2 separate regions of the Homo sapiens genome follow, and region 2 is linked to region 1. Evidence: fine-mapped expression QTL. A gene starts in region 1. The other region holds a variant in brackets. All regions are shown on one strand. Distances are from middle to middle.

Region 1 (2,910 bases):
TAATCCCTAGGAGAAGTGTGTGCCGCAGGGAGGACAAGGATAATTATGGTTATTCCTACCATTGAGGATTAAAGTTTAGTTTGGGACAAAGTCATGCAGCTTTTGGTTCCATGGTTCATATCACAAGGCAAACTCTGTGGGTTCTCTGGGAAGTTGGAAGGGAGTGAATGTATTGAAGCAGAAATGACCGACTCCAGCCTGGCCAACAGGGTGAAACCCCATCTCTACAAAAAGTACAAAAATTTGCCCTGTGTGTTGGTATGCTGCAATATTGTACTGTGCTCCAGCATGGGAGACAGAGGGAGACCTTATCTCAAAAAAAAAAAAAAAAGAAAGAAATAAAGGAAGAAAGAAATGACCTATGGCTAGGGCTATGCTGAGTATCTGAAGAAAGAAGGCTTTGAACTATACGTTTAAAAGCAAGTACTTCTAGGTTGCCACTCCCTGCCTGCACTTGAGGGATTTATCTCTGGGTCAAGACAGAGAACGAGTCTTGCATTAAATTACATTAAATTAAATGAATTAATTTATGGCTGGGTGCAGTGCCTCATGCCTGTAATCCCAGCACTTTGGGAGGCTGACATAGGAGGATTGCTTGAGCTCAGGGGTTCGAGACCAGCCTGGGCAACATGGTGAAACCCTGTCTCAACAGAAAAAAAAAATTAAAAAAATTGTAAAAAAAAATTATTTATTTTCAACTTTTATTTTAAATTTAGGGGGTACATGAGTTGGTTTGTTATCTGGGTATATTGTGTGATGCTGAGATATAGGGTACGGAGTCTTGCATTTTAGAAAGTGATGAGTCACTTTCAAAGTTGACAGTTCTATAATTCCCTGATTTACATATCAGGACAAAATTTGAGCATAGGCTGGTGATTTCTGACTTGAACCTAAAGGTCTGTGGAATCGGAAGGGTTCATCAAAATGAGAAACTACAACTCCCGGCAGGCCTCGGGGCTGGGTCTTCTTCCCCGCCCCTCCCTCTTTTTCCGCCAGGGCTGGGAACGACCAATGACGGTTAGTCATTTGAATAGACCAATAATATATTAAACGGTTCAGGTTGAGGAGGGGCGGTCGAGTCATCCAATCGCACGGAAGAGGTGAAAACATATTAGCCAATCCAAATATGTGGGGGCGGGACGTAAGGTGGGGCGGTGAAAGAAGTTTGCTGACGAAGATGGCGACTGAGGCACAGAGTGAAGGGGAGGTGCCAGCCCGCGAATCCGGCCGGAGGTGAGCTGAGTTTGGTCCAGTTTCCTGGGAAACGCGGCCTTGGGCTGGTAGTCCTGCCGCCTTTGCCTTGGGTCACGGAGGCGCACGGTTCGGGCTTTGTTTCTTTCTCCCACGGCGTTTCTCATCGTCGCGCCTGCGGGGGCTGAGGCGCGGGGGTCGGGCCTGGGCGCTGGACTCCAGCCAAACCCCCCGCTCGGTCCTGCCGGTGCCCGAGGGGGCTCCTCCCGCTGCGCTGGCTGCAGACGTCCAGCTGGGGGTGGCAGCGCTGATCGCTTTGGCGCCGAGACACCTCTTGATGGCGAGGAAACGGAAGTCCAGGGCTGGTTAGCGAATTCCTCACTGTTGCACACAGCGCTTCACATCTTCTCCGAGGCACTTTGTGCGTTCAGGTCCGAGCAAGGATTTGAGTGTCAATTAGAAACAGTGTTGAGTCCTTGGGCCAGTTTTTAAACCTCTCTCGACTTCAGTTTCTTCATCTGCAAAGGGACGTGAGGATGCCTATTTCCAAGTGTCAAGATTGAATAAGACAATCCATTTAAAGCTAGCACTGAGTTTAGCCGATAATGACAACTCTACGCAATAGATTTTCTTCTTCCTAGTAGAACAGCTAAGGAGCAGATGGGAGAGGGATCTGTAGTCCAGGACATCATGACTTTATTTCCACAGGATGTTCTTTCCTAAACAGCCACACCGAGATTTAGCGTTTTCAGGAGAGAATTTCGAGGTGGTGTTGCCTTAGCCTTGAGACCTAAGTTGTCTTAATTGATTACAATTTTGTTTTTGGTGTAATTCAATAGATTGAGTTTATTTACGTTGCCTCAGTGTAACTCAGTAAAATACTTCGGTTTGGCGTCTTTTGGTTCCATTTGTACCGAATAAGAGATTCCAAGAATCTTGGGAAACTAATAACTTTGTGACTCGGCTTCTTCCTGAGCCCAGATGAGCGTGGTTGAGTGTGTTATTTAAAATATCATACGGGGCCGGGCATGGTGGCTTACGCCTGTAATCCCAGCACTTTGGGAAGCCGAGGGGAGCGGATCACCTGAGATCAGGAGTTCGAGACCAGCCTGGCGAACATGATGAAAGCCCGTCTCTACTAAAAATACAATAATTAGCCGGGTGTGGTGGCGGGCGCCTGTAGTCCCAGCTACTCAGGAGGTTGAGGCGGAGGTTGCAGTGAGCCCAGATGCGCCATTGCATTCCACCCTGGGTGACAGAGCAAGACTATGTCTCAAATAAATAAATAAAATAAAATATGATATGGAAGAGTTTTCCACTCTTTTTTGTTTTGTTTTGTTTTTGTTTTGCAGTTGCAAGATTTCATAGAGTGAAATAGAGTGAAAACACAGCTCCCACACAAAGGGAGGGGACCCAAAGTGGGTGGCCGTTGCTGGCTCTAATGCCTGGGTTTATATCCTGATCCTTGTCCCTCCCGCTGTGCTCTCAGGCAAGAGATGATTGGCTATTTCTTTACCTCCTGTTTTTGCCTAATTAGCATTTTAGTGAGCTCTCTGATTGGTTGGGTGTGAGCTAAGTTGCAAGCCCCGTGTTTAAAGGTGGATGCGGTCACATTCCCAGCTAGGCTCAGGGATTCTTAGTTGGCCTAGGAAATCCAGCTAGTCCTGTCTCTCAGTCCCCCTTCTCAACAGGAAAACCCAAGTGCTGTTGGGGAGATTG
Region 2 (2,910 bases), 150 kb after region 1:
TAGTTGTGTTGAGCACAACATGATTAGTTATGTTGGTTATTTGCGTATCATCTTTGGAGAAATTTCTATTCAAGTCTTTTGCCTACTATTTAATTGGGTTGTTTGATTTTTTTTGTTGTTAAGTTGCAGCAGTTCTTTGTATATTCTAGATAGTAACCCCTTATCAGAGATATGATTTGCAAATATTTTATTCCATTCCATAAGTTGCCTTTCCATTCTTTTGACTGTGTCCTTTGACAAACATGGTTTTAAGTTTGATGTAGTCTCATTTGTCTATTTTGCTTTTGTTTTCTATGCTTTCGGTGTCATATCCAAGAAAGTACTGCCAAGTCCAATGTCATGAAGCTTTCCCCTTATGTTTTCTTTTAGGTGTTTTAGTTTTAGGTCTTACATTTAGGTCTTTGATCCATTTTGAATTAATTTTTGTATATGGTATCAGATAAGGGTCCAACTTCATTCTTTTGCATGGGGATATTCAGTTTTCCCAGCATCATTTGTTGAAGAGACTGTCTTTTCCTCATTAAATGATCTTGACACCCTTGTCCACATATACTTGCAAGAGTTTGTTTTTGGGCTGTCTATTCTATTCCATTGGTCTATTTGTCTGTCTTTATGCCAGTACCACATTCTTTTGATTACTGTAGCTTTGTAGTAAGTTTTGAAATCGGGAGGTATGAGTCTTCCAACTTTGTTTTTTTTTAAGAAGAGAGATCTGGTTTGGCAGTATTTGTTGTGAAAGGGCCGATGACTTCAAGCTAAGGTTAAGTCAAGAGTATGTTAAGAGGCCAGGCATGGTGTCTCATGCCTGTAATCCCAGCACTTTGGGAGGCCCACGTGGGAGGATTGCTTGAGTCCAGGAGTTAGAGACCAGCCAAGGACCAGAGATCAGTGAGACCCTTACTCTATAAAAACAAAAAAATTCGCTGGGTGTGGTGGTACACACCTGTAGTCCCAACTACTGGGAGGCTGGAGGGCTGAAGCAGGAGGATTGCTTGAGCCCAGGAGTTTGGGGATGCAGTGAACCATGAGCATGCCACTGCATTTCAACCTGCATGACTTAGTGAGACCCTGTCTAGTACAATACAATACAATACAGTACAATACAATACAGTACGATACAATACGATACGATACGATACGATACGATACAATACAGTACAATACAATACAGTACAATACAATACGATACGATACGATACGATACAATACGATACAATGCAATGCAATACAATACAATGCAATACAGTGCATTAAGGTGGCTAAAAGAGTATAGTCTCAGTTTGAATTAATAGAGGCAATGTGTCCTCTCCAGGGGAGGGCAGTCCTGTTCTAGTCTGTGCTGATTCAAGCATATCCAGAGAACAGTGTTCAGAACCAGGATCTGTTTTATCGCGTGTGCTTGTGTGGAGGTCTCTGAACATGCTTGGAGGAGGGTGGCTAACACTGGGAGCCATCTGGAAACCATTTCATATGGGATAGAGTCAAGGGGCCTGGGGCTGTTTGGTGCGATGAAAAGAAAATGTAGAGGAACCCTGAGAGTAATTTTCAAATCTATGTGAAGGGCTGTCATGAGGACAAGGAAGCAGATTTGTTCTAGAAGCTGGGTCCAGGGGTGGAAGTGGATGTTGTTCTGCACGAGGCAGGCTTCCTAGACACGAGCTGGCTGCTGAAGGGTGGGCTGCTGTGCTTGTCACCTCATTCCTGGAAGAGTTCAGGGAGGGGCTGAATCCGCATCTGCCAGAACTGCGTGCTGGAGCTGT[C/T]GTCGGGAGCCAGGGTCTGATAGCCTCGGGGTGCTTTTACATGCAGAGCCTCCGACAAGGGAGCCGTGGAGGACTTGCGAGTAGGGAAGAAGCCGACCCAAGCGGTGTTTCGGATGGTTAATCTGCTCACAGACACACGCAACTGGCAGCTGGTGGGTGCCTGGAAGTCCCCTAGCCTGAGCCTCAGTGTTGGAAGCCATCCCCTCTAGCAAAGTGGTTCCAGTGAGCTGTGTAACAAAATATTTACCAGACCCCAGATTCTGGCCCACATTTCAGAGTCAAATTTGGAACAATAAAAATCGACAAATCGCTTTGGAAGTGATGTCTGATTTGTAAAGAGACACAGGAGGTTTATCCCTGGGCAAAACCAGAGGTGCCGAGGAGCCCGTTCTCCCCTGGGCTGCCCCCACCCAGCCATCGCCCGCTGAGCAATGACTCATTTCCCCCTTTGAAGTCCACGTAGTTGTCTTTGGGGCCCTGGTGTTTGTACCCCTCTGCTCCTTCAACAAAGGCCCTTCTGTCGGCCGATCGCGGAGGCCAAGCAGGGAAGGGTTAGAAAGGAAGGTATCGACTGAATACCAATAAGGAGGGGAAGTGTGTTTATGGAGAATGAGGGGCTCCAGGCAACTTGGGGGCCCACTCGTGCTGTGCAAACACAGCGGAGAATTCCCTTTGGCGGGTTTGTTTTACTAAAGGCTCTGGGGCCCAAGGAGGGCGGTGGGAGGGGAACAGGAGAGAGGGAGGAAATATTTCACAATTCGAAGTTGAAGCTTAGCCCCTTGTTGGGGAGGGGCCGGCCTGAGAGCTGCAGGGTAACAAAGAGGCAGTGTGGGCTGGTGACAGTTAGGGGAAAACACATGGCAACTAATGGGGTAGTAATGGGTAGGGAGGTAACCTGGGAAAAGCTGGTACGAGGAACGCTGGCACATAAATTCTGGTGGCGAGACACCCGCCTTGGCAGGGAGACAGGGGCCACTCTTTCACCCTCCCCATGGTCAGAGCCAGAGATGTTCCCACTCCCAGGAACATGGTCAGGGTGAGGGATGGCGGGAAGAGGAAAAGCCATGCTGGGGTTTCATCACCCTGCAAGGCCCCTGGAAAGACAGAGAGGAAGAGGGGAGCTTCAGGCTAAGTGCCAGAAATCAGCACA

Which allele goes with the higher level. Alleles are on the strand shown, and positions count from the first base shown. SD is a standard deviation of normalised expression in the study named.
With allele T in place of C in region 2, the expression in anterior cingulate cortex of the gene that starts at base 1,132 in region 1 is lower (moderate effect, 0.61 SD a copy in GTEx).

What was found. PIP is the estimated chance that this variant, and not a neighbour inherited with it, causes the effect.
Region 2: its variant is fine-mapped to the expression of ARHGAP19-SLIT1 in anterior cingulate cortex (GTEx, PIP 0.99). The same link has a PIP of 0.9 or more in prefrontal cortex.

Annotation. Positions count from the first base shown.
Region 1 is chr10:97,290,895-97,293,804 of GRCh38, reverse strand. ARHGAP19-SLIT1 (ARHGAP19-SLIT1 readthrough (NMD candidate)) reads left to right here and starts at 1,132. Exons shown (of 15, transcript NR_037909.1): 1 at 1,132-1,233. ARHGAP19 (Rho GTPase activating protein 19) reads left to right here and starts at 1,168. Exons shown (of 12, transcript NM_032900.6): 1 at 1,168-1,233. The coding sequence starts at 1,178. RefSeq lists a silencer at 1,447-1,496 and enhancers at 841-1,597, 1,598-2,356.
Region 2 is chr10:97,139,976-97,142,885 of GRCh38, reverse strand. The region is part of intron 4 of SLIT1 (slit guidance ligand 1); the gene reads left to right. Among named protein-coding and RNA genes, the nearest start is that of SLIT1-AS1, 39 kb to the right of the region's middle. RefSeq lists an enhancer at 1,301-2,041. The variant C/T (reference allele first, on the strand shown) is at 1,761.